7 linked regions of the Homo sapiens genome follow. The protein of the gene in region 5 purifies or fractionates together with the protein of the main gene of each other region. This does not show direct contact. Each region holds a gene or a part of one and is shown on either strand. Other genes may lie near its edges.

Region 1 (4,072 bases), on a different chromosome or scaffold from region 5:
GTAATCCCAGCTACTCGGGAGATTGAGGTGGGAGGATTGCTTGAAGCTGGGAGGTAGAAGTTGCAGTGAGCTGAGATCACACCACTGCACTCCAGCCTGGGCAACAGAGTGAGAGACTCCGTATCAAAAAAAATCTCCATTTGGAAGTCTAATAACTGACCTCTTGATGTCCAACCCTGCTTTGAACTTGCTCCTTTTGCAGCTTTCTCCATCTCAATTGATATAACTCCATCTTTCAGTTGCTCAAGCCAAAAACCCAGAGTCCTCTCTTTCTCCTACATACCACATCTAATCTGTCAGCAAAGCATGGCTGATTGTACCTTCAAAATATATCCAGAATCCAATCACTTTTTACTGTTTCTTCCACTGCTATCACCCTGACCTAAGACACCATCATCTGGCACCTAGATTATCATAAACCAGTGGTTCTCAACTGGGGGTGATTTTATCCCCAAGGTGACATTTGACAATGTCCAATGCAGTCCTGTACACTGTCAGATGCCTAGCAGCATCCCTGCCCTCTACCCACTAGATGCCAGTAGCAACCCCCCACCTAGTCACGACAATAAAAAATGTTGGCCAGGTGCAGTGGCTCATGCCTGTAATCCGAGCACTTTGGGAGGCCGAGGTGGGAGGATCATGAGGTCAGGAAATTGAGACCATCCGGGCTAACGCGGTGAAACCCTGTCTATACTAAAAATACAAAAAATTAGCCGGGCGTGGTGGCAGGCGCCTGTAGTCCCAGCTACTCGGGAGGCTGAGGCAGGAGAATCGCCTGAACCCGGGAGGCGGAGGTTGCAGTGAGCCGAGACCGCGCCACTGCACTCCAGGCTGGCGACAGAGCGTGACTACTTCTCAAAAAAAAAAAAAAAAATGTTGCAGGGCACGGTGGCTCATGCCTGTAATCCCAGCACTCTCGGAGGCCGAGGCAGGCGAATTGCTTGAGCCCAGGAGTTAGTTCCAGACCAGCCTGGGCAACATGGCAAAACCCTGTCTCTATTAAAAATACAAAAAATCAGCCAGGCATGGTGGCAGCTGCCTGTAGTCCCAGCTACTCAGGAGGCTGAGGTGGGAGGATCACTTGAGCCCAGGAAGTTAAGGCTCCAGTGAGCCATGATCATGCCACTGCACTCCAGCCTGGGAACAGAGAAAGAGAACCTGTCTCAAAAAAAAAAAAAAAAAAAAAAAGGCAATGGTGCTATGGTTACGAAAATCTGGTGGACCCAACAAATCTTATCTCTCTGCTTAAAATCATCCAATGATTCCCCATCTCACTCAGAGTAAAAGTCCTCACAACGACCCCCACAAGGACAAACTGTGATCAGCAACCCCACTACCCATTACCTGACTTCCTTTCCCACAACTTTTCCCCTTGCTCACTTCATTCCAGCCACACTTCCCTCCTTACAACTCTTTAGGGACTCTGCTCTAGCAGATTCCCTCTGCCTGAAATGTTCTTCCCTCACTATCTGCTTGTCTGTCTCCCTCACTTCCTTCAAGTCTTTATTCAACTCATCTTTTCCATGGGGGTTACTGAGACCACCCTATTTAATACTCTAACCCGCCAGTTGGCCTCCCCTATGTCCTCAACCTTGAATTTCTCCTTTTCTCCACAGCACTTACGGCCTTCTGGCAGTTATATAATTCATTTATTACATTTATTGTCTGTATCCCCATAGAATGGCAGCTCCACGATGGCAACGATTTGTCCCTTGTTCACTGCTGCATCCTAAGTACCTACAACCACGCCTAGCATGTAGTAGGTGCTCAATAAATACTTGATTAATAGATCTGAGAAGGCTTTTACTACTTCTTACTGTCACATAATACTACTCTGCTCTCTGGTTGTCACGAGAGAAAGAATCTCTCTTAAGGCTGAATCCTAACTTCAGGGAAACCTGAACGTGAAATACTAGTAAACAAAGGATTCAGGCAGACCTTTCCTGGCACCAGAGATAAGTACACTCCAGCTGTCACACACATTCATCTCTCTTCACTGGAGACAGGAAGCTGCATATGGTTGTGGGGTGCAGCAGGGCACCATTTAAGAGAAAGAACTAAATCAATCAGTTTCATTGGGCAGGAATCTGCACAATTTGGGAAAGGAGAGAGAGAATGAGAAGTCTTTTGGCCCAGATTACCCTACTCTCCTTCTCCCTTTCCTACACTCCGAAGCAGCAGTGATAAGGAGAGGCGATTAACACAAAAGGACCTCAGCAAGGATGTGGCCTCAGACACCATGTCCCCAAAAGGAAGAAGTCATATCAGAACTCTCCCTTCTTACACACTGCAATCACACCCTGAGTAGGAATAAAGAAGTGGAAATGTGTCAGACGAGCCTGAGAATTCGAAATGAGAAATCTCGGAGACATGAAAGTTAAGGGAGGGGCTCCAGAAACTTGAAGCTAGGGGAGGGCAGACAGACGTGCCTTCCGACCTCCCCGGGTGCTCTAAGCCGTCTCCACTCCTGCCTCCGCCCCTTTCCACTTGTGCGGGGGCGCACGGACCTTCGCTCTCCCGGTAGACATGACAAAGGCCGACCGGGAGCCGGGGGCGCGACAGCATCGGAGCGGTCAGCCTTCGTCCCCATCCCCAGGGCAGGACACCTGCGCCGCCCCTACTCACCTGCGGATCCATGTCCACCTCGGTCCCACACGCGCCGGGGGAATGCAGTGGAAGAGAACTGGGTGCCGGGGATCCTGGGACTCGCGTTCTCTCGCCCGCTCGCGAAGCAGGGTAGAGAACTCGCACGGCTCCGGCCGCTACCAGCCCCGCGCCACACCCGCCACTTTTGAATTCCAACGGCCACCACCCACTCTCACCGCGCTCTGCACGCAGGGACCAATCGTCGCTGTCGCCACAGCCGAGGGCCAATCGCAGCGTTCTCCGCCACCCGAAGCCACACCCCGCCCGACAGGCGCCTTGTCTTTTCTGTTTCGCAGGCGCAGGAGAGGTAGGCGGATTAATTCCACTTCCGGTGCCACTTATGCTTCTCACCCCTCCCCTCCTCTAGCGGCAATAGTGCTGGACTTCCGCTCGGCTCCCCGCCGTCGCTCGCTACGTCAGAAAATGCGTGGACGTCGCCGCACGAACGCAACTGGCCAAGCGAAACTGGTGGCGGCCGGAGGAGAAGGGGCGGGGACGCTGGAGGAAAGAAATGACGCGTGCGCAAACGAGGACCCGTGCCGGGAGACAGGCGGGACTAGCGCCTCCTGGTGACTGCAGTAGGGAGCGCACTTGTTTTCCGTCGACGTGATTGAGGCTCCAGCGCTGCCTCTCCTGGTCGTGGTTGACTGGGCCCGGAAGTGGCTCCTGGAGCCCTCACGTGGATGTGAGTGGCCTGGTCTGTTCATTCCCTGGTAATGTTGCCATTTCTCACCAAATTTAGGAATTTTTGCGCTCCATTGAAGCCTGACAGTGGGGATTCAAAGCTCAGGAAAGAACTTTTCTTTATAGCCCTCTTCTCTCAGCCAGCCTACTTACCTGGGTGCTGTTACTGGTACTGGGCTCAGGGCCTTTGGAGTCTCGAGCTCGGGGAAGATTTACTGCTTCCATTTATGGAGTATTTTATGTTTTGCAGATTGTGCACCTGTATTATCTCGTCTTTTAATCACGAAAATTCACTGAGTTCCTACATTGTGCCACATTCTTTGTAGAGATGGATGGAGACAGGTTCAGAAAGATTACACAATAAGGTCACACTGCTGGTTAGGAATGGATCTAGATTCCATTAGCTTCAAAATCCAAGCTATTTCTGTTAACTCACGTTGCCTCTAACAGTCTCGGTGACAAGAGCAACCCCTTACGTGTGAATAGGGTGCTAGTTTGCAAAGTCGTTCTACCATATTTACTCATCCGAGTTTCCATCCAATCCTGGAGGTAGTCAGGACAGGGTTTTATTTATGAAACCGAAAGGCAGGGGCCTCAAGCATATGTTCGGGGATTTGGTGTGCAGTTGGAAATTGGCAGGTCTGACACCCGCGCTGCCGTCTTCTATCCATTGCTTTAACTTGGCTTCAAACAAGCTTGTAGAGAGAAGCAGATTGTGGGGAGACACACTGTCTGAAAACCA
Region 2 (3,368 bases), on a different chromosome or scaffold from region 5:
TTTCAGAAAAGTTAACCCCTGCGTTGCTTCGACCCCTTCTCTCCGGGGAGGGTTGGGTAAATGTCTCCGAATCGCCTTGAGAGAGAACTAAAGAAGGTTTGTTTCTAGGGTTTTGTGTCGGTAGAAGGTGAGAAGAGTTCTCCGCTAAGATAAGCAAAGAAGAAACACCCTCCTCCCCAGGTTTTGAACATCGTTTTTCCTGTTTATCAGATCTGCTCTGTCTCCTCCAAGCCTCGGCTTATTGTTCCTGCTTCTCCACAACCCTTCTGGTCTGAGGGGGCAGGCCAGATCCCACTGCCTAGAAGACCCAGAAGAGGAGGAGCTGGCAGGAGGGACTGAGCCCAAGCTTCCCCTTCTGACTCTGTGGCTAGACTAGGAGCTTCTTGGAAGGCGGCGACGAGGGTGGCTGCCCAAAACATTCTGCCTGGTTCTAGTATGCAGCTGCTCACCCTTGGCAGGGGAAGGGGCACTGGGGAAAGGGACTAGCCCTCTCCTCACTTGGTGATATGGAGTGAAGGAGTGAGGGGTATCCCTCAGCCTAGGTGGCTTTATTTGTCTGATCCCTATCCTGCCTGCAACCCTCACTCCAGTACCCTCTACAATCCCAAAAGACTTAAGAATAGCCTGGGCTATAGGATTTTCAGGAATCAGGGATGTCCCAGTAAATCTGGGCACAAGGAAGAAATCATTCTTCTTCCAGTTGTGGGCTTTGAACCCTCCTGATAGTTGAGGCAGTCAGAGACCACTGGGAAGAAATGCATCCTCACTCCTCTTCTAAGTCTCTGTAGGAGCTGCCAGTTCTTTTTAAAATTAATTCTTTCCCAAGACTTGGTTTTTGCTTTAGTTTGATAGGGAGAGAAGGTCGTTTGCGTTCTCTTGGGGACTCAGCAGGCTGCTTCCAGCCATCAGCCAGCATCCCCTCTCCCTTCTGTCTGTATCTCAGCATCGCTACAATTCCCTCCCACACCCCGTGTTTGTATCATCAGCTTTGCCGCCTTACAAATTTAGGTGTGTCAGAGAATGTATGTCTCTGGCTCTTTCATCCAAGGAAAATAAGCATTGAGCCCAGGCTGGGAGACAGGGCCACAGTGCATTCCCAACATTCTAATATACATACACAGGCCAAGTAGTGAAGGGTGACAACCTTCACACCTGGGGACAAGAAGGGGCCAGGGCATGGAACAAAGTCAGATGTCAGGCCAGGCTGACCCTCCTCTGCCTTGTCCTTCCTTTGGGCTCCTTTTTCTGGCCAAGTTCTGCCCACTGAAGATGGTACAAGACACTAGGGAAGGTGGCAGGGGACTGAGCTTGGATCACCAAGGGTGGGAACTTATTTGGTTGCAACGTGGTCTCCAAGGCTCTCTAAACTCAGGGCAACTTCTTGGCTGTACCTTAATGGCAAAATAGCCATCCCTAGATGGCCTCCAATTACTTCCTAACCTGACTCTGTGGGAGTGTTTGATAAGCATTTAAGAAAACAAATTTAAACCCCCTGATAATGAAGAAGGATAAATATTCCATATCTAGGTATGGCTGGGCTTGCTTCTAGAGAGGACTAGGGGCCATTTGAACAGGGGGAGAAAAGTGGGAGAGAGTACCTGCATGCACCTCCCTGCCTACTGCTGAGGCTGAGCCCTGGGCCTCAGCCTTCCCTGCCTCCTCCCTGCCCACAATGTCTCCATCCTAGCACTAAATAGTGTGGTTTTCTCAGTGAAGTCTGAACAAAATAAGATCTGGTGAGGAAGGGAGCATTTCCCTGTGTCAGAAGCAGGGAAATAATTGCCTTATCTTTAGAGTCACAGCCCCCAAATTAACCTCACCTCTGCAGGTTGCTTGTCTGGAGATGGAGCCACTACAGGCGGGCCTGGGCGCCTGGAGTCGGGCATGAAAGAAAATAGCGCCTCATCGCTCTTATCTAAGCCCAGAGGTATTTATGAGCGTTTATTCGTCTGATCCGTTTGTTTGGGAAAAAGAGCAGGCGGGCAGGGCAGGCCAGAGACCGACTCCTTTCTGGAGCCAGATCCCTACGAATCTGTCTGTGGTTCGGTCCACCGCCCTCTGTCTGTCTCCTTGGGGGAATATGTAAATACACAGCGGGCTCAGCCATCCGCCAGTCTGGGGTGTCTCTCCCTGCCTCAATGAGGAAGTGTGTGTTCAGAGAGATGGATAGAAGTGTGTACCAATTCTTGAGTACATAACAGAGGGATTGTACAGATACCCCACAGGCAGGATTTATAATTGTAATTTTCTATGCTGTGAGTCTGCAGTCCTGTGGGCAAGCTAACACATTCCAGCTCCCAGGAAAATGTTTCCTAAGTTGTGTTCAGTTCGGGAGTAAAATTCTTGATAGGTAACCTCAGGAGGGATATTTGCGTGTGTGTGTGTGTGTGTGTGTGTGTGTGGTGTGGTGTGGTGTGTGTGGGAGGGTGCTGAGACATTGTCCAGGCTTCCAATTTCCTCTAAGCTATAAAGCCCTCTCCCTCAGCTCTTTGAGGTGATGAGCACCTTCTCCCACCACCCCCAACTTTGGCTGGGGTGGGGTGGGATGAAAATATTTCAACTCAATTCTCGTCCTGGACTCTGTTTCTCTGGGTTTGGGGAACATAAATAAATGTTCCCAGGGGTACTGAGTGATCACTCCCATAGGTTGAGGGAGGCTGTTTAGATGAGACACTTTGCCCTAAAATCGGCCCCTCCAAATCAAAGTACAAAGACTTCATTTTCATTATGCAAAGGAGCGGCATCCTCTTTGATCTTTAGGGGAGTGAGCAGTAGTGCTGAACCCACTCTCCCGGTTTCCTACCCGCAGGTCCAGGGGACAACCTGAGGGCCCTGAAGTGTTTCAATACCATGTACCAGCTTGACTTCTCTACATGTCCTTTGGATTGCCCAAAAGCAAAATCTCAGAGGGGCCAAGGACCTTCTAGGGCTGGCTCCCTCAGGGCCTCCTATAGAGCAGCTCCTTGAGTCGGGCCTTATAGCCACCAGAAAGTCACCTCGCCGCAGGAAAGCTATAAAGAGCTGCTCCAGAGGCGCCGAAAGAGGGTGAGGGCTGCAGCCACAGTGTTTGTCCCCAGCACCACCAGGCCCCTTAACCTCGTCAGCTCCTCTAGCCCTCGGCCAGACTCTGGCAACACCTTGGTTTGCCTGGCACCGCAGGCAATTTCCTGGAACCCCACCCCCACCCAGGAACGGGGACCACAGCACCTTTAAAGGAACTGCCAGAGCTTCCTCCTACGGCTTGAAAGCCCAAGCTAATCAGTAACCCGTGAGACAGGGGCCAATATTCAAACGCTGCAGCAGAGGCGCATAGCCTAGCCCTGGCCACCCCCTCTTGGGAAGGAGGTCGAGTTAAGCCGGTGTGGAGG
Region 3 (3,500 bases), on a different chromosome or scaffold from region 5:
CAAAACAAGTAACATCCTCGCTAGACAGTGGCTTGTAGCCCTTAATTTAAACCTGGCCTAAAACTGCCTCCATGCCTAGGGAGCTGTCACCTAACTTAATATGCACACAAACTACAACATAATTTGAGAGTATATTCCTGTAATAAAAACCAAGTCTCAGCCAACCATGCATGGCAGCTGAGCTTTCAGCCAATTATGGGCTGCAAACTGCTCAGACATGTCCTAATAAGGCAAAGCAGAGCTGTATCCAATCAGGCTATCTCTATATGTCACATCCTTTCTTTCTTTTTTTTTTTTTTTTTCTGAGATGGGGTCTCACTCTGCAGCCCAGGCTGGAGTGCAGTGGTGTGATCTCGGCTCACTGCAATCTCCAACTCCAGGATTCAAGCGATTCTCCTGCTTCAGCCTCTCAAATAGCTGGGATTACAGGCAAGCGCCACCACGCTCAGCTAATTTTTGTATGTTTAGTAGAGACATGGTTTCACCATGTTGGCCAGGCTGGTCTCTAACTCCTGACCTAAGGTGATCCTCCTGCCTCGGCCTCCCAAAGTGCTGGGATTATAGGTGCGAGCTACTGCGCCTGGCCATGTCACTTCCTTTCTCTGTCTATAAATACTGCCTGCCTATGTCACTGGGTGAGCACTCTGAAGCTTTACTGGTTCAGGTGCTGCCTGATTTATGATTCATTTCTTTGCTCAAATAAACTAAGTCTAATTTGTCTAAAGTTTTTCTTTTTATAGGTTGCTAACACAATTTCCAGCCAAAGCCAAAGAAGCACCCTCATTTTGAAATGAGGGGTGAGAAGAAATTTAATAATTTGCCAACCAAGAAATCATGCAAGAGCCACCAAAAAAACTCAGAATTTACAAATCACAGAAATTTGGCAGAGATGATTACTTTTTGTATACTTGCTGAAGAGTAACTCAGCATTTTTATTTAATCAAAGTAGATAATGAAAGATTCAAATTAAAATAAAGGTTTACACTGTCAAAATGTCATTTTATAAAAAATGGAATCCCAGAAATTTGATAGTTTCATAAAAGTACTGCCCCACCATCTAACGATTTTCAGTGAAAGCAGCATAACCACTGTGATATAATGAAGGACTCATTTAGCCATATATCAACAGAGGCTGCTGTAGACTCAATAGTATTATTAACAATCACAGCATTCAGTTTAGTTCTATTTGGCATTTTTGCGTTCAAATCACTTTATAAATATTAAAGAGTAGGAATCCAAAAATAGATTTTTTTCCAAAAGCTTTCATAAATATTTAGTTGTACAGCTTTTATCAGCTTTATTAAGAGGTTTATATAAATCCTTGAAGTAACTGTTTAATTAGTACGTTTGGGGAATGGGAAAGGAAACTTGATGGCTAAAACAGTTTTACTATTAATCTATTTCCCTTAACCAAGTCTGACTTGTGATAGCAGCAGAGAAGGTGAACGGAGCTGAAAGGTCAGAGGGATATATTTTGAAGGAGTCAGGAATAACACCACTCATTTTCAAAATCTGCAGTGTGGTCCATTTCCAAAACAGAAACCTGACTCTGCAGGAATCCGAGTGCTTCTGCCAAGATGTTAAGTCTTAGGATCAGCCATTTATAGGCCCTACAAATATACATCATTCATTTTGTAGGTTATCTCACAGTTCTTAAAAGACATTATATCTTGTTAGCCTGGATTTATACGCTGCAGCATTTCTTCAAAAATCATACAGAAACCTCAATTTCCCTTAATTCCATTTAAGGAATTCAAATTCAACACACAATACTCAGCGTGCTACAAAGGAGGAACAAATCATGGGAAAGCTGTTCTTTAGTGTAAATGAAAATGTAAACCCTCACCTGATATCACGAATACAGCTTAGTCCTAATTCCTTTACACTAATACATTCATTTGCAAATATAGAAGATTTCAAGAGCTAGTAACACAAGACTTTTGGTGGTCTTTCTTTTTTTTTTTTTTTTTTGAGACGAGTTTTACTCTTGTTGCCCAGGCTGGAGTGCAACGGCGCAATCTGGGCTCACTGCAACCTCTACCTCCCGGGTTCAAGAGATTCTCCTGCCTCAGCCTCCCGAGTAGCTGGGATTACAGGCGAGTGCCACTACGCCCAGCTAATTTTTTGTATTTTTAGTAGAGACGGGGTTTCACCATGTTGACCAGGCTGGTCTTGAACTCCCGGCCTCAGGTGATCCACCCGCCTCGGCCTCCCAAAGTGCTGGGATTGCAGGACTTTCGGCTGTCTTTGATCTTTATAAAGTATCTGTACAAGGTATCTTTATACTTTTATAGAGCATTAAAATTTTATAAAAGTATTAGCTTTATAAAAATACTAAATTACAGATGAGCTAATAGTATTTTGCTTGCTTTATTAATATACAGAACAATTATTAGCATTACACAAAAAGTAACTGCCAATAAAAGTACAGTAAGAAAAATCAGTTTTGCTATCAGTAACTTTACTAATTCGGCCAGGTGGGGTGGCTCACGCCTGTAATCCCAACACTTTGGGAGGCCGAGGCAGGCGGATCACCAGAGGTCGGGAGTTCGAGACCAGCCTGACCAAAATGGAGAAACCCCATCTCTACTAAAAGTACAAAAGTAGCCAGGCATGGTGGCACATGCCTGTAATCCCAGCTACTCCGGAGGCTGAAGCAGGAGAATCGCTTGAACCCGGGAGGCGGAGGTTGTGGCGAGCGGAGATCATGCCATTGCACTCCAACCTGGGTGACAAGAGTGAAACTCCGTTTCGTCAAAAAAAAAAAAAAGCAAAAACAAAAAAACTTTACTAATTCATTTTTAAATCATTAAAAGTATATTAAATTTAGTTTGCCAAAAAATTTTAAAGCTTTACGAGCTGCCTAAAAATGGAAGTGAACTTTTCTGAGGATCCGACAAGATGGCCGAGGTAGAGCAGAAGAAGCGGACCTTCCGCAAACTCACCTACCGCGGCACAGACTTGGACCAGCTGCGGGACGGGACGTGTCCTGCGAGCAGCTGACGCAGCTGTACAGTGCGTGCCAGCGGCCGCAAGTGAACCCGGGCCTGCGGCGGAAACAGAACTCGCTGCTGAAGCGCCTGCGCAAGGCCAAGAAGGAGGCACCGCCCATGGAGAAGCCGGAAGTGGTGAAGACGCACCTGCGGGACATGATCATCCTGCCCAAGATGGTGGGCAGCATGGTGGGCGTCTACAACGGCAAGACCTTCAACCAGGTGGAGATCAAGCCGGAGATGATCAGTCACTACCTGGGCGAGTTCTCCATCACCTATAAGCTGGTGAAGCACTGCCGGCCCGGCATCGGGGCCACCCACTCCTCCCGCTTCATCCCCCTCAAGTAGTGGCTCAGCTAATAAAGGCACACATATTTCCAAAAAAAAAAAAAAAAAGGAAGTTAAATGGATGGTTTTGCCGGGGACTCACTGCAAACACCTACAACATTCCAAGGAACCAGACCCTTCAGTAGTGCTGGATAGGTGATGGTAATGCCAACCTACACG
Region 4 (3,500 bases), on a different chromosome or scaffold from region 5:
CACAACAGGTGCCACCACACCTGGCTAATTTTTTAAAAAGCATTTTTTTGTTGTTGTTGAGATGGAGTCTCCCTATGTAGCCCAGGCTGGTTTTGAACTCCTAGGATCAAGCGATTCTCCCACCTCGGCCTCCCAAAGTGCTGGGATTACAAGTGTGAACTGCCTCGCCTGGCCCAGAGTTCTTTATATAAATAAATGTTTCTTTGTGTCACTATTTCTTCATCCACTTAAATATTTGCTCAGCTCCTGTAGGTCACACACTATCTTGTGATCCTGGGAATACCACCAGTTCCTGCCTATCAGGAACTCACAGTCTACTGCAAAGTTTCTCAGCCTCTACACTTTTTTTTTTTTTTTTGAGAGGGAGTCTTGCTCTGTTGCCCAGGCTGGAGTGCAGTGGCATGATCATGTTTACCTGGAACCTATGAATAGGACCTAATTTGGAAATAGAGACTTTGCAGAAATAGTTAGGTTGAAATGAGGTCTTTCTGCATTAGAGTGGCCCCTAATCCAATGACTGCTATCTTTTTTTTTTTTTTTTTTGAGATGGAGTCTTGCTCTGTTGCCCAGGCTGGGGTGCAGTGGTGCAATCTCAGCTCACTGCAACTTCTGCCTCCCGGGTTCAAGCGATTCTCCTGCCTCAGCATCCTGAGTAGCTGGGATTACAGGCACCCGCCACCACACTCAGCTAATTTTTGTATTTTTAGTGGAGACAGGGTTTCACCATGTTGGCCAGGCTGGTCTTGAACTTGTGACCTCAGGTGATCCACCCGCCTCGGCCTCCCAAAGTGCTGGGATTACAGGCTGAGCCACCTCTCCTGGCCCACCTCTATACTACTGACGTGGAAGCGAGGCTGTCCTGTGCCGGATGTTTAGCAGCATTCTTGGCCTCCACCCACCAGACGCTGGCAACATACCTTCCTCCACGTTGTGACAGCCAGAAATGTCTCCAGGCATTATGAAGTGTCCCCTGGGGAACAAGATTGCCCCTGGTTGAGAATCACCGGTTAGAGGCTAAGACAGCCGTGTATATCTATAATTTCAATCAGATTGCTTGTGCCTAACAGGATACACACACACACACACACACACACACACACACACACACACAGAGGAGGCATTCAGGATGTATTTGTTGGATGTTGGATGGCTGGGGGTGTAGATGGATGCATGGATGGACAGACACAACCCCTTTGTTGGTTGGCTAGATTGATGGATACATGTGTGAATGAATGGATGAATAAATGAATCCAATTTACAAATTCCACTGTGGGAAAACAGAACGCTATTCTTCCAACCAGAGTAGCCTGCCCCTTTATCTCTGTCTAGCACAGTGTTTTTCAAACTTTAGCATCAGAATCCCCTCAAGAGCTTGTTAAAACACAGATTGATGCCCCTGCCCACCAGAATTATGATTTAGTAGAATCACCGGCGGCCAGAATGCTCCCAACTCTATTTCCATGTTCTCTAGGAATCCTGGACCAGCCCCCGACCCCTGCCAACCTTGTCCTTGTCCAGAGGTCCCGTAATCTTCACTGCCAGCATCTCCCATTTAGGTGCTAACATCTATTATCTTGGATATCAGCAACTTGCCAGCACTCTGTCCCTGGGCTGCACTGAGAATTCCTTCAAAGGTGGGACCCACTGTATTCTAGTACCTTACTACTGAAAGTGTGGTCCAGCGGCCAGCAGCATTGCATCTTCTAGGAGCTAGCTAGAAATGCAGAATCTTGGGCCCCACCCAGAACTACAGAATGTGAATCTGCGTTTTAACAATATCCCCTGGGGTGATTTGTGTGCACTTTTAAGTTTGAGAAGCGTATTTTAGACAGATCTGTAAACCCCACACTCAGAGCTAAGCTAGGGATAGCTTTGCTGATAAGTTACATTGACAGCATCTGTTACCATGTAATTGGTGCCTGAGCTGAAGCATCTTTCAGGCATTACTGGCCATTTGTACCTTTGCCTGACGTTATCTCTTGAAATGTCTACACTGGCCTCGCTTTACCCGTGGGAAACCAGAAGCCCAGAGGAGCAGTGCCTTGCCCAAGGTCACACGATGACCATGAAAGCAGAGTGGAGATCACTCTCCACTCCTTAAAGGGAATGGGATCAAGAGGATTGAAATGCTGTATCCACTGAGCAGGGCGGCACATGCCTGTAGTCCCAGCTACTCGGGAGGCTGAGGCAAGAGGATTGCTTGAACCCAGGAGTTCTGGGCCGTACTGTACTATACCAGTCAGGTGTCTGCATTAGTTCGGCATCAATATGGTGACCTCCTGGGAGTGGAGGACCACCAGCTTGCCTAAGAAGGGGTGAACCAGCCCAGGTCAGAAACAGAGCAGGTCAAAACTCCTGTGCTGATCGGTAGTGGAATTATGCCTGTAAATAGCTACTGCACTCCAGCCTGGGCAACATAGTGGAACCCTGTTTCTAAAAAAAAAAAAGAGAGAGAGAGAGAGAGAAAAGAACTGAAATGCTGCTATGATACTGAAAATATGGGGTGTAGGGGGAGCATTCTGAAGCTACTTAGGTCTGTCCTCTGAAACTGGAGAAAGGGGAGATGACTTGAAAGTGATGCAAGAACAAGAACTTAAGTTGTATTCTTTTGTTCATCCAACCAGTGTTTATTGAGTACTTACTAGACTCCAGGCATGGTTGTCTGGTATCTATAGTATTGAACAAGAAAAGCCAGGCCTCCCTTTTGATGGCTTATCTGGAGTGGACAGACGTAGCCATCTGGCATTCATTCGTCAATGAGTGTGTTCATTTATTGCATGATTTCCATGTGCTGTGTACAGTAGTAGGGGTGTGTGCGTGTCTATGTGTCTGTGTGTGTGAGAGAGACAGAGAGAGAGAGAGAGATGGAGGGAGAGACAAAGACTCAGCTACTACACCAGCGCCTCTTCTAGACTAGCCATGCGGAAACAGGCCCCAAAACAAGGACCACACAGTGAGGAGAGTGCCGAAGGTGTGTGGGAGTGAATACAGGTTCAAGCTCAAAGTAAAAAGAGGTTACCACTCCCTGTTCCTGGGGATTCTAGGGAAGAAATTTCAGGAGGAAAAGGCAGAAAAGAAGAGAAAGAGACTCTGTGCAGGGAGAGCATCATGAACAGGCCCAGAGAGTTCATAGGAAGCCGTTCCAAGAAAATCGCAGGGGAAAAAGGAAGGATAGACAGCGTATGGTGGCTCGCACCTGCAATCCCAGCGCTTTGAGAGGCCGAGGTGGGTGGATCACTTGAACCCAGGAGTTCAAGACCAGCCTGGCCAACATGGCCAAACCCCGCCTCTACAAAAAATACTAAAATTAGCCGGGCATGGTGATGCATGCTTGTAGTCCCAACTACTCAGGAAGCTGAGGCAGGAAGATTACTTGAGCCCAGGAGTTTGAGACCAGCCTGGGCAACATAGCAAGACCCCTCAAGACCCCTTCTCTACAAAAAATTTTAAAAATTAGCCAGGTGTGGTAATGTGCACCTGTAGTCCCAGCTACTCAGGAG
Region 5 (3,500 bases):
CTATATATCCAACATATTATAAAGTTCATCATGATATGGCAGAACAAAAGGCATCACAAGAAGAGAGAGAATAATTTTGCCTGTGGTCATTAGTTTTGAAGTAGTAGAAAATGTCTAAATATTAGGTGGAGCAAACTAGTAAAACTGGCTCAAGTTTTCATTACACAACTTCGTTTCTCTAACCTCTGCAGCTTTGGAGCAATTCCCATCGACCAGAGTTGGTCCGACCAGCCTTGGAAAGGTCACTGAAAAATCTTCAATTGGACTATGTTGACCTCTATCTTATTCATTTTCCAGTGTCTGTAAAGGTAGGCAGCTTGTGTGATCAAATTAATTTCACTTTTGTTCTCAGCATAAATATTGTTTTCATGGAGATTTGAACTAAGCTTTTTCTTAGGAGGACATAGGGATTTTAACATGGAAGAAGAGCCCTAAACATAACTCCTAATTCCTTTCTATGGAACAGAAAGCAATTTTGAATCCATACTTCCGTGATTGCATGTCTACAAGAAAAGAGAGTGCAGAATCCTCAAAGCCTCTGCCTCAAAAACTTGAGGAAATGACAATCATCTCCTTGAAGGCACAAGGTCTTATTTATGATTCCTGATTTCACCTCTTGGGATGTTCACAGACACAGAGTTTCATGAAGCTGTGGTGTCCAGAAAACCTGCTGCACATAGGGTGCACAATGAGTTTCCATCTTCTTGCCTCTTTTCAAGGGGCAAGAACTCAGTCCGGGAATGTCTTAAACTACAAACCTTCATGGGAAACCTTGTTGCTTCTGCTTCCTCTCTTTTCACACTGGAGGTTTTATTTTTGCTTAGCCATGAATTCTTGTGTCATTCATAACTTTTGTCTTAAGGTACTGAAAACTAGTCAGGCTAGTTAATGCAAAAGGGTATATTAGATATGATAATGGGAAATCAAAGCCAGGGCTACATTAAGAATTTGATAAAAACTCTAAAAATATATCCTTTCTCCACCCTTATCTCTGCTTTATTACAAAAGGCTTTTTAAATATTTGTTCCAACCTTTTTCGTTGGTGGCATTTATGGCTTTGGAGCACTGTCAGGCCCATGTTCATTACCGTGAGCTCCTGTGCATCTCCTAATTTCCAAACTAGCCTGGAAAACGCCTCCATTGACCATGATTGGTTCATGGTCCTGTGCATGGAACATCATATGTTCAGGGAGATAAAGAACTCTGATAGTGGCACCTGGGTAAAAAGTACAATCCATTATATCTGGATATCAAGATCTTTTGCAGTTGAAGAGAGGTATTGCCACAGAGAAAATTATAGGAGCAGAAGAAAGTCAATGAAAGTCAATGATGACACTCCATTAGGAACCAGAAAGATGGTATTTATTTATACATATAATAGGTGTAAGAGATTAGAGGAAGCCTGTCACCTGAAGACATTCCTTATACCTTCATATGTAGTACACTTTGTACATACCACTCTCTGGAGCGCTGCATCACCTACCTCATGGAGGATTAGTGTCCTTAAATGTACCTCAGAGCATGGCTATGTGTGGAGAAATTGACTTGTGACATCACTAAACTGACTGCTTCTACTTCAGCCAGGTGAGGAAGTGATCCCAAAAGATGAAAATGGAAAAATACTATTTGACACAGTGGATCTCTGTGCCACATGGGAGGTGAGTGTTTGGAGGTGAGAGAACGGATAAGAAAGATGAGGTAGGATACATCTGTTTCCTATCTTCTTAGTACAAGTATGGAAAATGCACCATTGGATCAAAAACTTAGGAACTTTACAAAGGTAGTTTTTGTGAGCAGCGAGGAAAAAGAAATGACAGGCATACAAAAGAGAGAAGTGGAGGAGAAGAATTGGGGGTAAGGAGGACTGGGATTTCTTTCCTTGCCTGTACATTAATCTCTCCACTTTCCTAAGGAGGAAACAGAAATTCTCACTCTTGCAATCACTATCTTCTTCCCCAATTTTTCTGTTTTATTTTCTCCCTTTTAAGAACCACGGCTAGCTAGTTTGATTGTCACGTCTAGACAGTTGTTGCTTTCACAGTTCTATGTTACATTTATCTTGCTCTTCAGTCGACTACACAAATGATACCTCACAATTCCTTTTTCCCAGGCCATGGAGAAGTGTAAAGATGCAGGATTGGCCAAGTCCATCGGGGTGTCCAACTTCAACCACAGGCTGCTGGAGATGATCCTCAACAAGCCAGGGCTCAAGTACAAGCCTGTCTGCAACCAGGTGAGCGCCCTCAGCCTCCTCTCCTTTCTGTTCTTCATGCCCCTCTTTCTGTCCTATTGCCAAGTATCCATTCATTTAGTCCCACTTATCTTTGTAAAAGAGAAGATTCTAGAGAACAAAGCCTCTTCCTAGAAGGGCATGGAGTCCTCTTACTTGTACCCTGCTTAGAAAAGTCTTACGAAAAGGTGTTGTAACTTTGATGCTGAATTGTGTGTTACATTTATAGGAGGTCAATTCGATCAAGAAGTCCAAGGATTGCCAATTAGACTCAGGGAAAGGTGGACTTACCCCTAAGCTACGAAAGATGACCAGAGAGTGGACGGGTGAAGGTGATTTGGAGGGAACTGTGCATAGATATGAAGCCATGAAGAGATGGAATGAACAGTACATAAGGAGAGAGTGAGAGCAAGAGAAGAGAAATACTAGGGATTCACATGGGCTTCGGATGTCTCAGTGTCTCTTGATATCTCTGCTTTCACACTTCTTGACCAAGGGCATAGATACACTAAAAATTATCTGCAGACAGTGAAGGTCATCCATGGTAGAAAGAGAAAATGACCTGTTTATGGAGATATCTGTTCACAGTGGATGAAATCCACACTGAGGAAGGTTCAGCAGAACATGGAGCTGACCTATGACTGCCCCGCTCCTAGTCGGCTGCTTTTTGGAGTCTGTCATGCAATCAGCTGCTTAAACACATCTATTCTATGCATGGTTCTTTCATAGCCTAGAGATAATTCCATCTTTTCCTTGAGTCCTGACTGGTGATTCCAGGCCTCCTTGATCAAATTGACTGCCCCCAAATGTTACACACATTTCAGCATTAAAATCACTACACCTTTCCCAGTAACTTACATTTTTTGTTATAATTTTGTTATAATTTGGTATAATGATATGGTGCTGTGATAATTTAATAAAAGCATTGAGAAATTAATGTGGTTTTAATACTAGTAGTTCCCCAATTTTTTAATATGGCCATTTTCACACTTTCCAAAAATTTGATAAAAATAATACTGGAGACCCATGTTACCATTTATATTCAAAATTACTAACATTTTGCAATGTTATATGGAGTATATCTGCATAAATACATATAATGTTTCTAGAACCTCTTCAAGGTAAATTGTAAAGATGACAATTGACCCCTAGAGACCTCTCAAAGCATGTCACAGGAATGAAGATATTCTCCCAGTTCCAGTGTCATTACTGTATCTAAGAACATCATTTATAGTGCCCTTATGTCATTTGGTATCCGGTCCATATTTTA
Region 6 (3,500 bases), 6.9 Mb from region 5:
TTGCTCTATACTTTTCTACTGTAGTCCTGGAGCCCCCAAATGTATCTTCTTCCAACGTGGGATGTTCAATTCAGAGACACTGAAACTCAAATCAAGTTTAAAGCTCAAGTTCATTTCCCCCACACCATTACCATCACAACCCGTTTCTTCTCTGGCTCAATCATCTCCTTCACGCTCTCCTTGGTGTAACTGCTCAGTAGTCAAGTGAACCATCTCATTTCTTGACTGCCATTCTCAAGAGAAGATTAACCCTCGCGAGATTTCCATTACAAAAGGCCTTTTCCGCCTTGTCTGGAAGCGTCGGCTTGTTCCGGTGTTGGCAGAGGCTGGTGTTTCTGCCTCCTGGCCCCAGCCTGTCCCAGGTTTAGATTCGCAACTCTCTAGACCGACCTGCTGAGATGTGTCCACTGCTCTCATTCAATTGCTGGAGGACTCCACTAACCACAACATCAGATACAGGACCTAATGAAATGACACGTGCTGCTGGATCAACGTCTCCTAAAGGAACAAACAGGGTCACATCAGAGAGCTTACTGCCACAGGACAAAGTCCAGCAAGATGGCGTCTGCAACGCTACCCACCACCACCAAGTCACTCCCCCAAGTTACAGGTGGCCCTGGCATCTGCGGGTTCCACATCCATGGACCAAAAATATTCGGGGGAAAAAAACCCAAACAATAAAAAATAACATAAATATTAAAAACAATACAGTATATCAACTATCTCCATAGCATCTACACTTTATTAGGTATTACAAGTAATGTAGAGATGATGTAAAGTACACGGGAGGATGTGCATATGTTATACATAAATGCTACACCATTTTTTACCAGGGACTTGAATGTCTGTGCATTTTGGTGTCTGAGGGGATCCAGGAAGCAACCCCCTGTGGATACCGAGGACAACTGTAGTGCTTTTTTGAGAGCATTCATGCTCTCTACTGAGCTACAACTTAACCAGAGCCATTGGAGCAATGGCTGGAGGAGTGGCTCTGTTCTCTTCTACAACTTATTCTTAAGGTGCTAAGAATTCACAGTTTGTGTTATGGTTCAGTTGTGTATCCCCAAAATTCACATGTTAACACTGAACTGCAGGACCTCAGAATGTGACCGTATTTGGAAACAAGGTTGCTGTAGACGTAATTACTTCAGATAAGGCCATACTGGAGCAGGGTGGAGCCCTAATCCCATATGACTGCATCTCTATAAAAAGGGAAATTTGCACACAGACACACACAGGGGGAAAAGGCCACGTGAAGACAAAGGCGGAGACCAGGGTGAGGTATGACAAGGTATGGAAGCCAAAGACTGCCGGCACCCCCAGCAGTAGAAGGCAGGCCTGGAGCAGTCTTCCTCCAGGCCTCAGAAGGAACCAGCCCCGCTGACTCCCTGACCTCAGGTTTCCTGCCGGCGGCCTCCAGTGCTGCGAGACAACAGACATCTGTCGTTTAAGCTACTAGGGCTGTAATATTTTGTCATGGCAGCCCAAGCAGATGAACAGTTTGTTTCTTACAGAGCAAGCTACCTTAGCAAGAAACTTTCAAAGCGTTAAGATGCAAATATGGAAAAGTATATCCTCAGCTGGATAAGATCCGTAACTCTTCCAGAAATGAACTGATGGAAAGAACACAAGTATTCCCTGAGGGAATGAAAGAGAAGATTCAAGCATCTCTCCTGAAGTCAAGAAAAGGCAGCTATCTAACCTAGAATACTTTAAATAAATGCAGTAAATGACAGGAAAAAAATGTTCAAAATCTTTGCTAAGTAAGGTATAGTTATATCACTAGTTATAGTGTAAGGTGTCATTTGACTGGTTTATAAGCAAACAATCATTCTGAGTGACTCAAAAATCTATCAGCTCAAAAACTGTTTATTAATACAATATACACTTTGGATTAAATGCAATTCTACAATGGACTCTATTGTATAACAAAACTATCACTAATTTAACCTTACATAAAGATATATAAAAAAAAAATCTGATGAAAAAATGCAGACTCTACTTAAGATAGGTTTACAAGAGTTCAATATCAGCCTGGGCAACATAGTGAGACCTCGACTCCACTAAAAATAAAAAAAATTAGCCATTTGTAGTGGTGTGTGCCTATAGTCCCAGATACTGAGAGGCTGAGGCAGGACTGCTTGAGCCCAGGAGGTCGAGGCTGCGGTGACCTGTGATCACGCCACTGTACTCCAGCCTGGGTGACAGAGCAAGAACCTGTCTCAAAAACAAAATAAAACAACAACAAAATCATTTTTAAAAAGATGGGTTTAAAAGTCAGATAGTATACTCCTATGCCGCTAAGTGTAGGCCACACACCAGCAGTTTTGACATCACTGGAGATCTTGTTTAAAAGTAACCAGAGCTTGTTGTGCTCACTTCAGCAGCACATATACTAAAAATTGTAGTGATACAGAGAAGACTAGCATGGCCCTGTGCAAGGATGACATGCAGGTGGGGTGCAGTGGCTCACGCCTGTACCCTCAGCACTTTGGGAGGCTAACGCAGGCAGATCACTTGAGGTCAGGAGTTTTGGAGACCAGCCTGGCCAACATGGTGAGACCTCATCTCTACTAAAAATACAAAAATTTGGCTGGGCGCGGTGGCTCATGCCTGTAATCCCAGCACTTTGGGAGGCCGAGGAGGGTGGATCATGAGGTCAGGAGTTCAAGACCAGCCTGGCCAAGATGGTGAAACCCCGTCTCTACTAGAAATACAAAAATTAGCCAGGTGTGGTGGCAGGTGCCTGTAATCCCAGCTACTCGGGAGGCTGAGGCAGAGAATTGCTTGAACCCGGGAGGCGGAGGTTGCAGTGAGCAGAGATCACGCCACTGCACTCCGATATAGCGAGACCCCATCTCAAAAAAAAAAAAAAAAAAATTAGCTGGGCGTGGTGGCACATGCCTGTAATCACAGCTACTTGGGAGGCTGAGGCACAAGAATTGCTTGAACTCGGGAGGCAGAGGTTGCAGTGAGCCGAGATCCCGGCACTGCACTCCAGCCTGGGCAACAGAACAAGACTCCATCTCAAAAAACAACAAAAAAGAATGACACACAAATTCGTGAAGCTTTCCACAATAATTAAAAAATAATAATAAAAGAAACTAATCAGAACTTGCTTTTTAGTAAGAGTCTAGAGAGTTAATACGTATTTTAAAGTTTGAGAAGCATTGAAATAACCCATATGAATTAGTACCATCTAAGCCATGTAAGTATTAACACTTGCCAAAAATGTTAAGTTTCACAGATTTTCAATACTAGTGTATTAGAAAAACAACCTTGTTCTGCAATACAGAAAACCCTACATAATAGTTTTACTTACAGCACTGCTGCCGTTTCAACTCATTGTAAGCAAATGCCTCTTATTTGTTAAAGGGCTGAAATTTTAATTTATGTCCTTATTTCAAGGATCTCCTGGTTAGAAAATATACAAATACAAATTAAAATCTGGGAGTCCATCAAAAGCTACAGGAGAAAAATAGTTTATGCCGGGCGTGGTG
Region 7 (3,500 bases), on a different chromosome or scaffold from region 5:
CAGGAAAGAGACCTTCCAACATTTTGGCTCTCACTGGGCTCTGAAACACCATTTCTTCCTTTGGTCCCTAGGGAGACAACAGCTTCTTGGCACTGCTGGTCTCTGGATTCCTTACCATCCGTTGTTTGTTCCCTTAATCCTTCTCTCATTCTCCAAGTCATCCTTTCATAAGGCGCTAATTCAGTTTACTGCTAAAGCCCTCACTGATAAAGCTGGTGAGGTCCACAGGTTAAAAATGGAAGGAATTCTATTCACCAGGCCCATAAAATCATATACAAAGACACACATATATAAGGGTTTATCTTTATTTTATAAAAACTGCTACACACACACATACACTCTCTCTCTCCCCTCTTGCTTTCCTCATTTGACCTAGAGAAGTTTGGAGTTTGTTCCCACACATTCTTTTCAAGGAAATACCATTCAGCCATGGTATGTTTTTACCACAATTTATTCATCCATTCCCTTACTGATGGTCTTTTTTTTGTTTGTTTTTTTGGTCCTTACCAAAAAATACAATATACATTAGTAAACATATAATCTTAAGTGCTGGCGCTTTTTATTCCTTAGGGATAGATTCCCAGGAGATTCCTAGGTTGTAAGAGTATATTAATGTTAAAACAGACTCACAATGTTGTCCAAGGAGGCTGTTACAATTTACATTTCTAAAAGCAGCTATGAAAATAACGTTTTCCCCTCCTTTGTGAGTAAGTAAGATGACAACTTAGACAAAAGCTTATTGGGCTATGGATGTTCTGGATAAATTTGTTCAGAAAGTCACTCAATATATAGTGTGACAGCACATCAATGATATCCAAAAATATTTTTTAAAAGCCAGTTTTTGGTTGCCATTTATAATTTCCAATACATGATTTGTGATTGATAGGGAAAGGCTGAACTTAAGAATTTGAAATCAAGTCTATAAAAGCAAATCTTTGAGTTACACAACAATTCTTGTTAATATCTGGAGAGACCACTGAAAAATCTGATTTTTATAAAAGTGTAAACATGTAAAGGAAAAGTAATAACTTATAACTCATGTTCCAAAGGGAAATGTTTTAGGTTGGCAACAGCAAAACTCAAGGAAGTAGAAATGCCTCCTTTAAACAACAAAATAGTGTAAAAATTTACTTCTAAAGGGGGTTATGCACGTGAAAAATTTAAAAAGCAATGAAACAGTTGACAGTTATTTAAAATAATTTTTCCTCTAAAGTCTCTGAAATGTAACATTTGTGAACTACAGAAGCATCCTACCATTTTTGCTAGACAATTCATGAAATATTAAGGGAAACAAGGAAAGACAAAAACAGGTGGTTTCTGTCTGTGTTACACAATATTTTGGTAACAGACATGCATTTGTATGCAAATATCCCACGGGAAAATAAGAGCATGACGAATGGGGATATTGTCTTTACACGGCAAACTCTTATTCTGTGGTGCATACTGAGTAGTACAGCTCATGTCTGCCTCCTTCACGTTATAGATCGGTTATTTCACATTTGCATATTTGTGTAAATAGTGCTTCTAGAAAATCTTCAGCAAACCAGAAGCAGGGAAAACTTCAACACTGTCTTCTGTTTCCTAAGAGGCAGCTCAAGAACAATGTTCATACCAACTGATATATGCCAGCAAGCAGTAGGGAAAGACGTAGGTTCCATGCTACTTTAAATGTTACACATTTCATTTGGAATGCATACTGGATTGCAGAGATACTGAAAAACACATGTGATGTTTAGTATGGAAAATCTTGTTATGTCCTAATTATCACAGAGGACAAGAATTTCAAATTCCCAGTGATTATGCTAAATTCACATGTGCAGATCTAAAGCATACCACTTGTGTTTTGTGGCATATCCACATAAAACCACTAAATTCATAGGATACTGTTTGTATATTTCTTATGCTGCTGTCTAGAATACTCAATTCATTCAAGATTTTAAAAAGCTCATTGTAGTACAACTGGGTATGGCTATTTACAACTGGATATATTCTGATATGTATTCTTTAGCTGGGTATCACATGTAACTTCCAGTATAATGTTCTCATGGGATCCTATTTTTAATACATTTTTGAGTTGAGAGATTGCATCTCAGTATGAATTCCCATGTTCCCTCAATACTGTCATGAGGTTTTTCACCCGCTTGAAGAGTTCTGGCAGGAGTTTTCCACAGTAAGACCTGGCTGGAGTTTCAGGGTTTCTCCCCGATGTGAACTCTCTGATGGACACTGAGTCGGGACTTCCTGCTAAAGGCCTTCCCACATTCGGAACACTCATATGGTTTCTCTCCTGTGTGGATTCGCAAGTGTAATCTAAGAGTTGACCTCTGGCTGAAAGTTTTGCCGCACTCAGTACATTCATAGGGTTTCTCTCCTGTATGAGTTCTCATGTGTATGATGAGCTGTGAGTTCTGGATAAAGGATTTTCCACATTCACTGCACTCATAGCGTTTCTCCCCCGTGTGAATCTTCTGATGTATGATAAGGTTTGACTTCTTAAAGAAGGTTTTTGCACATTCGTTACACTCATAGGGTCGCTCTCCTGTATGAATTCTCTGGTGTGTGGTGAGTTCAAACTTTTGGGCAAATGTCTTTCCACATTCACTGCACTCATAGGGCTTCTTCTCCATATGTGCTCTCTGGTGTACAATGAGGTTTGACTGGTGGGTGAAAGCTTTTCCACATTCCGGACACTCGAAAGGTTTCTCCCCAGTGTGAATTCTCTGATGTTTGATGAGGTTGGCCTTATGGGAGAAGGTTTTCTTACATACATTGCATTCATATGGCTTTTCTCCAGTATGTATTCTCTTATGACTAATGAGGAGTGACTTAAAGGAGAAAGCCTTGTCACAGTAAGTACAAATGAAAGGTTGAACCAAGTTTTTTATTTTCTGATGTTTAAAAATGGCTGCTTTATGGCTGAGGGCTTTTCCACTTTTATTGTATTCAGAATATTCTACTCCACTGTGGGTTTTCTCTTGCTTCAGGTAGAGAAGTGCTTTTCCAAATTCATTACACTCATCAGTCTGCTTTCCTGCATAGCTTCTATTACTATTAAGCAAGTCTGAATTATATTTCAAAGTTTTTTCATATAAGTCATATTTATAAGGTACTTGTCTTAAAGAAACAAAGTCTGTGTTCAGATTAAGTGCTTTTCCAAAGAGATCGCCTCTTTCCTCAATTGGGGTTTGGTTCTTAAGAATTAAAAATTGCCTCGCCTGCTCGTCTGGGTTTCTGTGGTCTCTCTCCATCTGGTCATCAGCCTTCCACACTTCTAGGAATAGAGAGCACAATGAAAAGAACCTTGTCAATGCCTCCGCTATAATGTTACCGAATGGGAAGTCTTCACACGTGTTCTATCACAGGGCTGACTCTTTAGTTTGGGACCCAGTCTCCCAATATTAAAAAATTCCCAGTGCAAATGTTTCCTTTCAAACTTTGAAAGAGAAAGGTAATAGCTTGTGGTTAAAAAAACAAAACAAAACCAAAATCAATACAAGTAG

The links.
Region 1: the proteins of AKR1C2 (region 5) and KIFC1 purify together in Homo sapiens (co-immunoprecipitation; one large-scale study listed by IntAct). This does not show direct contact.
Region 2: the proteins of AKR1C2 (region 5) and HOXB6 purify together in Homo sapiens (co-immunoprecipitation; one large-scale study listed by IntAct). This does not show direct contact.
Region 3: the proteins of AKR1C2 (region 5) and TIGAR fractionate together in Homo sapiens (co-fractionation; one large-scale study listed by BioGRID). This does not show direct contact.
Region 4: the proteins of AKR1C2 (region 5) and ABAT fractionate together in Homo sapiens (co-fractionation; one large-scale study listed by BioGRID). This does not show direct contact.
Region 6: the proteins of AKR1C2 (region 5) and UPF2 purify together in Homo sapiens (co-immunoprecipitation; one large-scale study listed by IntAct). This does not show direct contact.
Region 7: the proteins of AKR1C2 (region 5) and ZFP1 purify together in Homo sapiens (affinity purification with mass spectrometry; 3 studies listed by BioGRID and IntAct, with this or other methods). This does not show direct contact.

Annotation. Positions count from the first base shown.
Region 1 is NC_000006.12:33,390,551-33,394,622, reverse strand, and holds the start of KIFC1 (kinesin-like protein KIFC1), read right to left. Parts: upstream 2,801-4,072; 5' UTR 2,638-2,800; coding exon 2,626-2,637; intron 1-2,625. UniProt on the Homo sapiens protein: Minus end-directed microtubule-dependent motor required for bipolar spindle formation. May contribute to movement of early endocytic vesicles. Regulates cilium formation and structure.
Region 2 is NC_000017.11:48,598,619-48,601,986, forward strand, and holds part of HOXB6 (homeobox protein Hox-B6), read right to left. Parts: intron 3,046-3,368; exon of another isoform or gene 2,810-3,045; intron 1,928-2,809; exon of another isoform or gene 1,829-1,927; intron 1-1,828. UniProt on the Homo sapiens protein: Sequence-specific transcription factor which is part of a developmental regulatory system that provides cells with specific positional identities on the anterior-posterior axis.
Region 3 is NC_000012.12:4,324,213-4,327,712, reverse strand, and holds part of TIGAR (fructose-2,6-bisphosphatase TIGAR), read right to left. Parts: intron 3,374-3,500; exon of another isoform or gene 2,874-3,373; intron 1-2,873.
Region 4 is NC_000016.10:8,681,117-8,684,616, forward strand, and holds part of ABAT (4-aminobutyrate aminotransferase, mitochondrial isoform 1 precursor), read left to right. Parts: intron 1-2,142; exon of another isoform or gene 2,143-2,435; intron 2,436-3,500. UniProt on the Homo sapiens protein: Catalyzes the conversion of gamma-aminobutyrate and L-beta-aminoisobutyrate to succinate semialdehyde and methylmalonate semialdehyde, respectively. Can also convert delta-aminovalerate and beta-alanine.
Region 5 is NC_000010.11:4,997,358-5,000,857, reverse strand, and holds part of AKR1C2 (aldo-keto reductase family 1 member C2), read left to right. Parts: intron 1-191; coding exon 192-308; intron 309-397; coding exon of another isoform or gene 398-448; exon of another isoform or gene 449-947; intron 948-1,580; coding exon 1,581-1,658; intron 1,659-2,110; coding exon 2,111-2,233; intron 2,234-3,080; exon of another isoform or gene 3,081-3,500. UniProt on the Homo sapiens protein: Cytosolic aldo-keto reductase that catalyzes the NADH and NADPH-dependent reduction of ketosteroids to hydroxysteroids.
Region 6 is NC_000010.11:11,920,810-11,924,309, forward strand, and holds part of UPF2 (regulator of nonsense transcripts 2), read right to left. Parts: intron 499-3,500; coding exon 489-498; 3' UTR 1-488. UniProt on the Homo sapiens protein: Involved in nonsense-mediated decay (NMD) of mRNAs containing premature stop codons by associating with the nuclear exon junction complex (EJC).
Region 7 is NC_000016.10:75,169,024-75,172,523, reverse strand, and holds the end of ZFP1 (zinc finger protein 1 homolog), read right to left. Parts: intron 3,272-3,500; coding exon 2,190-3,271; 3' UTR 290-2,189; downstream 1-289. UniProt on the Homo sapiens protein: May be involved in transcriptional regulation.